3 separate regions of the Homo sapiens genome follow, and regions 1 and 3 are each reported to be linked to region 2. Evidence: microRNA targets listed by miRTarBase, many of them from high-throughput screens and not tested one by one. Region 2 holds a microRNA gene; each other region holds the end of a gene's coding sequence.

Evidence for each region. The annotated mature microRNA hsa-miR-7161-5p reads UAAAGACUGUAGAGGCAACUGGU and lies in region 2 at 919-941, opposite strand. An mRNA with a match to its seed (bases 2 to 7 or 8) in the 3' UTR can be bound and repressed. Matches are read on the target gene's strand: a 7mer-m8 pairs with bases 2 to 8, a 7mer-A1 pairs with bases 2 to 7 and ends in A, and an 8mer does both.
Region 1: miRTarBase lists UBE2W as a target of hsa-miR-7161-5p. Seed matches in the 3' UTR shown: 7mer-m8 at 2,358-2,364, 7mer-A1 at 1,863-1,869 and 7mer-m8 at 506-512.
Region 3: miRTarBase lists GOLGA6L4 as a target of hsa-miR-7161-5p. Seed matches in the 3' UTR shown: 7mer-m8 at 2,407-2,413 and 7mer-m8 at 2,429-2,435.

Annotation. Positions count from the first base shown.
Region 1 is chr8:73,791,673-73,794,839 of GRCh38, forward strand. UBE2W (ubiquitin conjugating enzyme E2 W) reads right to left here. Exons shown (of 6, transcript NM_018299.6): 6 at 1-2,443. The coding sequence ends at 2,430. Among named protein-coding and RNA genes, the nearest start is that of STAU2, 46 kb to the left of the region's middle.
Region 2 is chr6:158,607,478-158,610,647 of GRCh38, reverse strand. MIR7161 (microRNA 7161) reads right to left here and starts at 941; the gene lies at 858-941. TMEM181 (transmembrane protein 181) reads right to left here. Exons shown (of 17, transcript NM_001376852.1): 9 at 2,185-2,315; 10 at 1,898-1,989. It also overlaps the pseudogene TATDN2P2. RefSeq lists an enhancer at 828-1,329.
Region 3 is chr15:84,242,271-84,245,440 of GRCh38, forward strand. GOLGA6L4 (golgin A6 family like 4) reads left to right here. Exons shown (of 9, transcript NM_001267536.3): 9 at 190-3,088. The coding sequence ends at 322. Among named protein-coding and RNA genes, the nearest start is that of GOLGA6L4, 8.1 kb to the left of the region's middle.

The DNA of each region.
Region 1 (3,167 bases), not on the chromosome of region 2:
AAGGAGTTTTCAATGATTCCTAAATTCAAGAGAGTGTTGTTAGCCTGATTATGAATTTTAAATGTCTGTGCTCCTATATTTTAGGATATTTCATCTTATTTTCTACTCTTTAAACCATAAGATGTACCGAAATTATTTCATTTTCCTCTACTTTCCTCTGTGTCATTTTAGTTTACTTTATGGTATTTATATGTAGAGAGAGAGGTATGTTAAAATATTGTCATAAAAAACTCAATTGAGGCTATATATGACCTATTACTCTATAGTATAGCATTGTTAATCTTTGACTCAGTATATTAATTCCTTTGGTGAATAAATGTCACCGGTCATTTCTTTATAAAAGCATTTTGGTAAGAGAACCAGCAATATGGAGACAGATTTCTCCCTAACCCCCAGAAGAAGATCAAGTCAAACAGTAGTGTAGAGCAGTTACGCAAAATATGAAAATACATAATTTACAGCTGCAATTTTCATATTAAAAGCAGTTTAAAACTATGAGTAATTCAAAGACTTTCTGTCTTGGTTAAACAGGCCAACTAATAAAACTGACAGAGATCATTGTGAGAATTTATCTAGTCAAGATAGAACAAAAACGGTTATAATTTTTTAAAAGTGGTAATTGTTAACTAGCAGTATATAAACAGTGTCCACAATTTGGTGGCTGGCCACGGTTTTAATTTTTTTTTTCAAGTTATTTCTATAGCAGACATATTTTTGAAGTCTACCCACCCCTGAGTTCAGCAATTATACTTTGAGTGTAAAATTATATGCCCTTAATTAACAACATGTACAAAGCTACAAAATGTCATCTATACAGATTAAAAACAATTTTAAAATATTATTTACCAATTATTGATTGAATGGTTTTACTGGGGTACGTATTTCAAACCTTTCAGCCAACTGGCTTTCAGTTTTAAGCCCAAATTGATTCATATATTCACTGCAGGATATTTCAAAAAGAGTGCAACAATAAGGCATTAGTAAAAATAACATTGTAGTAGAAACAGATTTTGCATATGTGAAAAGGTAATTTATAAAATACATTAATCACTTTTTAAAAAGAACTTAGTTGTAGTATCATTAACTCACATGGTACTGAGAACTGGACCTTTCAACAATTTTTTTTTTCTATAGAAAGTTTCATCTAGCTGTAAGCAAAGTCTTTTCAACAACAACAAAACAAAACCCTCCAGGAAAAACTATATGGCTGTGTGAGACAAATAAGCAACCATTTGATAGTGACTTTTGCCTAAATTTTAAAATAAAAATGTCCACACTCTTTTGTTAAAACATTAAGCCTCTGTCAAAAATGTATTTCTTATTTTAGGGTACAGGATTAAAGGACAAGATGATACTCACAAGTAAAGAAAATTTACAAGAAAAAACTTAACAAAAGTTTCAATAAAAGTATTGTAACATTCAAACTTGACTTATAACAAAAGAAACAAGATTGCAAACAAAAATGTTTACGGGGTTTCCAAACATAAATAAATGAAATAGTGTTTAGGCAGTAGGGCTCATGCTGATGGCTAGCAGGAAGTTAACAGAGTGTAACTTACTTGGAAAAAATCTTTAATGTACAAATAACAAGCCCAAATTATGGACTGCAGCAATTTAATCATCACTGCCATTTTTCTTACTTCCAAAATAAAGCCTTGATTAAACCATTCATACCCTATATTACTCATACCTTTACTTCAGAGATTGAGGAACTATATACAACAAATTAATTTATTTTCACCATAGGGATAACATACTGTACCTCTCTGCCAATGTTACTTGAAAATCTTCCATGTCAAAACAACTTGACAGTAGATATAAACAATTCAATAAATATGCAATGATCTTTCATTACAGTCCTTTAAAGACGCATGTTAATTCATGCTGTTAACCTTAGGATCACAGTGCATAGAATCCAAATATAAACAGTTGGGGTGACTTTTAAAGTAATGTTGGATCCCTCACTTTATTTATATTCCCACTATAACCAGTAAGTTCATTTCATAGGCCCTATCATGCATTAATCATTGAATGGCAGGAGTTAATGAAAACTTTTCCTGTTACAACGCCCATTGCCGGCAATGAACGTACCAAAACCGCCAAGGAAGTCATTGTTATTGCACAATACATGAGGACCTGGAGCTTTTCCAAAAGCTTAAAAAAATAAAAATAAAAAATGGAATTATATTTGACATTTCCTGACACCTGCATTAATACTGTATGACTAATAAAAGCATGTCAGTTGCCTGGACTGAACCAGCGATCAACATGCGCCCAGAATGCACACGAGTAAAAATGCAGTAAAAGGAAGTAGTCTTCATTGCCTATAGGTCACTTCCAGTCAAAGGTTAAAGTTCAAAGACTGAATGATCAAAGTGCTCATTTTCTCAGTAGGACTATCTTCTGCTAGGAGGATGATAACAGTGGCATCAACAAGTATCATCTTTAAGAAAAGGAGAAAAAAGATAATTAAAAAGTCAAGCATGTATAAGTAAATTCTACAAGTCTGTTTAATGTAGAAATAATTTCAATTAGCAAGAAGTACATAGTTTACATGTCTGATCTGCCTCCCCCAAACCTGTGAATACAAAGTGCAATATATGTTCAATTATACAGTGACAAATTTTTATTCTTTCAGAGAAATAGTTCACATAAACCTTAAAATGATATGTTATTAGCACATTCTATTTAAAATAATAAACTGACATGACATGTTAGTACATAGTCAGGATGTATCAATCTTAAGAGAATTATTTTATGGGCAACAAGTTCACATTGTAATGAGACAGAAGTAAACTCCTGATCAACAGTGCCATGCTATTTAACACAGAATAATACACAATTTGTCTTTAGACTGTGAAGGAAGTAACTGTTCTTTACCAATGAGATACAATCTCCAAATCAATAAACAGTTAAGATTAATTTCCCTTTAGAAAATAAGTTTTCAGGCCGGACACGGTGGCTCACACCTGTAATCCCAGCACTTTGGGAGGCCGAGGCGGGCGGATCACTTGAGGTCAGGTGTTTTGAGACCAGCCTGGCCAACATGGTGAAACCCTCCCTCTACTAAAAATACAAAAATTAGCTGGGCGTCGTGGCACACATCGGTAGTCTCAGCTACTCAGGAGGCTGAGGCAAGGGAATCGCTTCAACCTGAGAGGCAGAGG
Region 2 (3,170 bases):
CACTCATTTCACTTCTCCAGAAGCTCGGGAGGAAAAGAGGTGAAGCAAAGAAGAACATTCCAAGAGGAGATGCCTCTGTGTCCTTGTGGAGGACACACATCCAGCTCCCTGCCAAAGAGCCACTGGGAGCCAAGCCTAGAGCAGGGCTTCACTGATACCCACTGTCATTTGGATATGCTGTATTCCAAGTTGTCTTTCAAAGGGACCTTGACTAAGTTCAGAAGAATTTACAGCAGCTCCTTCTCTAAGGAATTTCAGGGTTGCATCTCTGACCTCTGCCACCCTCACCCTGACAAATTGCCTACGGGGGGAGCTGTTGAAAGAGAATCTGGTCTGGGGGGCCTTTGGCTGTCACCCTCATTTTCCATGTTACTACAATAAGAGTCAGGAAAGAAATCTTTTACAAGCCTTAAGGCACCCCACGACTGTGGCATTTGGAGAAACAGGCTTCAATTACTCCTACAAGTGCACCATGCCTGTCCCAGAACATCACAAGGTATTTAAGAGACAGCTTGAGCTGGCTGCGTCTCTAGAGAAGCTTTGGTGATCCTCTGCCAGCAAGCTGACGAGGATCTGCTGGACACCATGAGAAAATGTGTGTTCTCTGACTACAAGATACACAAGCATTGCTTCACTGCAGCTACCTGGCCATGGAACCCCTGCTGAAGTACTTTCCCAACGTCGGTGGGCCTCATGGCAGTCCTGACGTACTCCTCCACCTGAGAAGCCCGGGAAGTGCTGAGGCAGATCCCACTGGAGAGAATCATCATGGAAACGGATGCTCCCTACTTCCTCCCTAGCCGGGTTCCCAAAAGCCTTTGCCAGTATGCCCACCTGGGCCTGGCCTTGCATACAGTCCTGGAGACTGCCAGAGTCAAAGATCTAGTCTCCCACACCCTGGCCACTTTGCGTGAGAACACCAGTTGCCTCTACAGTCTTTAAGCAGAGAGGGCACAGTCATTGGGAGTCTCCCAGAAAAGGGCAACTAGCAACCTGACGTAATACAGGCTGGCCTGAAGTCTGTGTCCCAGGGGGAGGATGTGTTTGGAAGGCCGACTGGAACACAGAAAACCAGGACGGGATATTTTTCCTCAAAGCGGGTCATGAGGCTTCAGTTTCTGGGTAGTGGGTGTGGAATGAGGGGTAAGGGGACTGCCTGTAATAGCATTGGGGTTTTGCCTCCCAGCCAAAATGCTCCAAGGTAGGAGCAAAGAAGGAGTGTGACATGAGGGTACAATGAGTTTGCCAATCCAAATCCTGTTCTCTGCAGCCTGTGTTTTTGAGCAGCCTGTGACTAAAGTCACCCTCCTATTCGTCTAAAAAAAAAAGAAAAACATAGTATGGGTATACATAGGGTATAAACAGCTATATATAAGGATCAGTACTATCCAAGACCGCAGATAGTTAATGGGGGTCTGGGAACAAATCCCCCAAAAATAAGGGGTGTCTACTGTGTCACCAAGTTAGATAAACTGAAAGCTGATTCTTTTCTGGATGAGTTCACAGAACACAGTTTGATTGTAAGCCTTTTCACCTTTTTTTTTTTTTTTGAGACAAGGTCTCACTCTGTTGCCCAGGCTGGAGTGCAGTGGTGCAATCTCGGCTCATTGCAACCTGTGCCTCGCAGGCTCAAGCGATCCTCCCACCTCAGCCTCCCAGGGAGCTGGGACTACAGGCATGCGCCACCACGGCCAGCTAATTTTTGTATTTTTGGTAGAGACGGGGTGTCACCATGTTGCCCAGGCTGGTCTTGAACTCCTGAGCTCAAGTGACTTGCCTGCCTCAGCCTGTCAAAGTGCTGGGATTACAGGCGTGAGCCACTACGCCTGGCCTGGCCTTTCCACTTTTGTCAAATGCTTTTCATGACTGAAGTTTCACACATAATAGAATTACTCACGTTTGCCATATTCCTAGCGTAACAGAAGCCAACCACAATAGTCCAACAATGAAGAATTTAGGCAAATAGAAAGTTAAACACTTTCTTTCTCCCTAAAAAGAAAAAAATAAGAAGTAAGAAATAAAGAAAACCAAATTGGTAATTGTACATAACGTGATTTTTCCATTGAGTATGGGCCTGCAGACAGGCTTCCATGGATAAATTCACCTTTCTGGGCTGTCCTCAGAGTTCGGGAGGGAGGACACAGTCTGGAACCTCCCCCGGCAGTGAGGGCGGCTCCGGCTCACCTGGACACGAATCCCGTGGTACACGCACAGCCAGAAGAGCAGCAGGGCGCACAGGAACATGGACTGAAAGAGGTCATCCAGCATCCCTGGGAGCCAGCTGTTGACCAGGAAGGAGAGGGGGAAGAACGGATCTGGAACACAAAGGGCAGAAATCCATGTGGAAAACAGGCCCGCCAGCACCTGGCAGACAGCACCCCATACCTCTGCGGGGTCAGCACCTAGCAGAGAGCACCCCATACCTCTGCGGGGTCAGCACCTGGCAGACAGCACCCCATACCTGTGCGGGGTCAGCACCTAGCAGAGAGCACCCCATCCCACTGCAGGGTCTGAGCTCACTACCAGCTTTTCTCCCTGGTCAGAGCCAAAGGAAAGGTAGTGAACCAATGGCTATTTTGTTTTCCAAAACACCTAAAAGCCACTGAACAGATTGCTGCACTGATCACGACAGAGCGCCGTATGCCACTGCCATCAGCTCCTCCCGGAGCCTGGGAGTTCCGACTGCGGCAGCTCGGGAAGCAAACACTTTTGGAGCAGGAAAAGAGGAACAGCCAGCCATGTCTGGCCACCTTCAGCCAAGTTCCAGGACTGCTGTGTCTGTAGCACGTCCAAGTTTTAACTACCGAACAGCCGCCTATTTGTTAGAGAGCCAGGCATCTGCCCCAGCTCGGTGGAACATGGCTCCTGGGGTGGCAGGGAGCACACGGCTACATGTTCCTTCTGGGGCTCCCTACGGGCTCTTCTGGGCCTAGGCCATCTCCAAGATGGCTTCCAGCTTTAGTTTTGTTTTGTTTTAAGAGACAGGGTCTTGCTCTGTTATCCAGGCTGGAGTGAAGTGGTGTCATCATGACTCACTGCAGCCTCAGACTCCTGGGCTCAAGCAATCCACCCACCTCAGCCTCCCAAGCAGTTGGGACCACAGGCACGCACCACCATGCCCAGCTAAATTTTATTTTTTGTAGAGTCTTGCTATGTTACCCAGGCTGGTG
Region 3 (3,170 bases), not on the chromosome of region 2:
GGTGGGCAGGCAGGAGCAGGGGAGGCTCGCACTGTGCCCAGATTCCCACCCCCCTCCCTCTCTCTGAAGATCTTAGTGGGCTGAGCCTCACTGATAGCATGGAGGCTGCACCGGGAGAGGACAGGGAGGGTTCTCCCCCATGACAACCCCACTGCACAGCAGATCCAGCAGCTGCTTCCTCTAATGCAGGACTCCCCAGGAGCACCCAGGCTTGAGTGGAGAAGCTGTTGGTACAGGAGAGGCGGCAGGAGGAGCAGGAGAGGCTGCATGCCATTCTTTTCGGGCTGCGGAGAACAGGGAGCTAAACATCACCATCATCTAAGAGCGGGTCAAGGAATTGAAAAAAAAAAACAAAACATTTAAGGGGTTAATATCCTACACAATTCATTTACTTCATTTGAATGTTAGAGCCACTTATGTTTATTTGTGTTTCTAATTTATAGTTTAAATTTATTTGTGTTTCTAATTTATAGTTTAAATTTATTTGTGTTTCTAATTTATAGTTTAAATTTATTTGTGTTTCTAATTTATAATTTAAATTTATTTGTAAAAAGTTAAATGAGAGTGGGTGTTTCTCTCATGTTCACTCTGGCATCTTTTAGCATTTTTTTAATTTGATAATTATAGGACGTTAGCATGCATATCGAGTTTGCCCTTATGTGGTGGGAGTTCAAACACACAAAGACCCACTGTATGCACACAACTGTTCTTGCTGGTTTGGGATAGGCTGCCATGCTTTTTGAATGTTAGTACAGCCTGTATATTCATTACGGAATTCAGATAAAATTTCCTTATGTTCTGCTGTTATGTTTGATCGAATCCTAATCACAGTGAGCTCTTCATTAGCTCAATATGCAGTTTGCCCTCAAGTGCGCGGTCTATTACTTTGTAATATGCCACTGTGAGTACTGACATTTACAGTTGTTTAAAGGTGGAGCACTGGAAACAGCCTTTCCCCCTTTTTCTGTGTATTGGGGATGGGAGTAATAACATTTTGGGGAGGTTTTTAAATCTCCCAGAAGAGGAAAGTGGCCTGCTTTGGCAGGTGTGTGCAGGATAGAATATGTTTCATTTGTTCCGGTGCCAAGAATGAGCGCTGTACTACGGTAGTTCCCTTAGGATTTGTATGTGCTCTGGGCTCATGAAGATACTGCCTCATGAGCTGTGGCAGTTGTACTCTTTTTTGATGACCTGAAAAGGGATTATTTCTGAGGAATGAAAGGCTCCCATCATGACTGTGGATGTGGAAAACCTTTTCTAGCTGAGAGCATTTATATCTACAATACATTTTAAAGTCAGCGTTCATGTTCCCTGTTTTAATCACATGACTACATGTCCCAGTACACAAAAGGGCACTGGTTGGCGTTCTCCTTAATGTATTTAGTAAAGATCAGAAGAAATCCTTTAAGAGTTTAAATGCCCCTGGAACAGGCATATACAGGCTCTAGTCAAGAATGAATTCGAGTGAAGGAAAGCTGTGTGACACCTGGCATTCCTCTGTGTTCATGGAGCTTATTTGAGGCTAGAAGATGGATTTTACCATCTAGACCTCTCTGGCTAATAGCTAGTCTTCAACCATCTGACATAGGAATTTACTTCTTTTCCTTGAATGGAGAACACTTTAAAAATAATAACAAACATTATTATAAACTAATATATGTGAGAGTACTTAGTTGAAACAAAAAGGAGTTTTAGTAGACAGTATTATACTACATTTGAAAATCAAGGAGCAGTTTATGCAACGTAAAATGTTTACAAACTGCAGCGCAATCTACTGTTTGTGACTGTCAAAGTGTCATGAGGAAAGTGTCTATACAATCACAGAGTTATATTTCCTCACAAAGTTCTTTACGAAGAGTGAAATATGTTTTTATACCTCTCAGTTTCAGTTAGAGGCATATTTTGTGTAATATTTATGGCTTAAAATGGACTAAAGGTCCTGTTCTTGCCTTGTCTGAACTTGCCGCTTTTGCATTCTTTGAGTTCAGTTTAAAGACACTTACTTTAACTCCATTTTAAACCCTCGGGCTAGAAATCGTACCACTGTTAATTAGCCACGTTATTTGGTCTAACAGTTTTTGTTTATCATTCTGAAACTGAGCTTATCTAATACATTGATAAATTATTTCAAAGGTATTTTTATAGTTCAAATCGCTTCACTTTTACCCTGACACGTATAAATGAATAGGAATGACCTTCAGATAGCGTTTAGCAACTGTAACCAATCTGACAATAATGTGTTCATCAGGTACCTGTGGATTAAATCACATACTGGCATATTTAAGATGAATGTCAGTCTGAAAAATAAATATACTATATTAATTCAAATACGACTCTTTGTGTAGGTATTTTGTCATATGTTTAAGAAAAAGCTAAAGAGAATGGAAATCCTATGACAATAACTCAAGTCTTTCTTCAAAGTGCATGCAGTCTTTTGCAGTACCTCATTCAGCCAAGTATTTGTTCTCTACCTCATTCAGTATAAGGCAGCCTTTAATTTGCTTAGAAGGCAACATTAGAAGGTTAGAGTTCAGCAGGAACATAGAATTTTAAAATGTGACTTCAACTGAATAAATTTGAATTTCTCTAGGGAGTAAAGAATCAAAACACCTATTTAAAGACTGCAAAATATGATAATTATTTTTAAAGTAATTGATTAAACCTGGTAGGTTTTCCCAAAATGAAAAACAATCAGTTCTAAAACCAAAGCTGATTTTTAGAAAATGTGAAAATGTAAATCAACCCTATCCATAATAGATTCTCTAAAACTTTATCTTACAGTCACTTTCAAATAACTATTCAAAAATGTAACTGCTATATTAACGTCTTAAAATAATTTAAAACATTTTAAAATATGAATACTGTAGTTTAAAACAAAGAATCTAGGGGAAGGAAAAGTAGACAAAGAAATGCCAATTCCAGTCCAAAGCTGTATTTGCCAAGTTTTCTTAGAATGACTTTTACCGATTTATGAATTCTTATACACAGAATGCATAATGGAAATACTGATTTTTGTCTAAAGTGGCATTATTGACTGCTTCTGTGATGCTACTGTAATGTAATACATTATTAAATTGTTTCAAGGTGCTGTTTTGCCTAAAAATTTTGTGTGTCTTGAAAACTATAGTATTGGGTATTGAGACTCTGCAAATTCTCGGCATGCTTGGCAT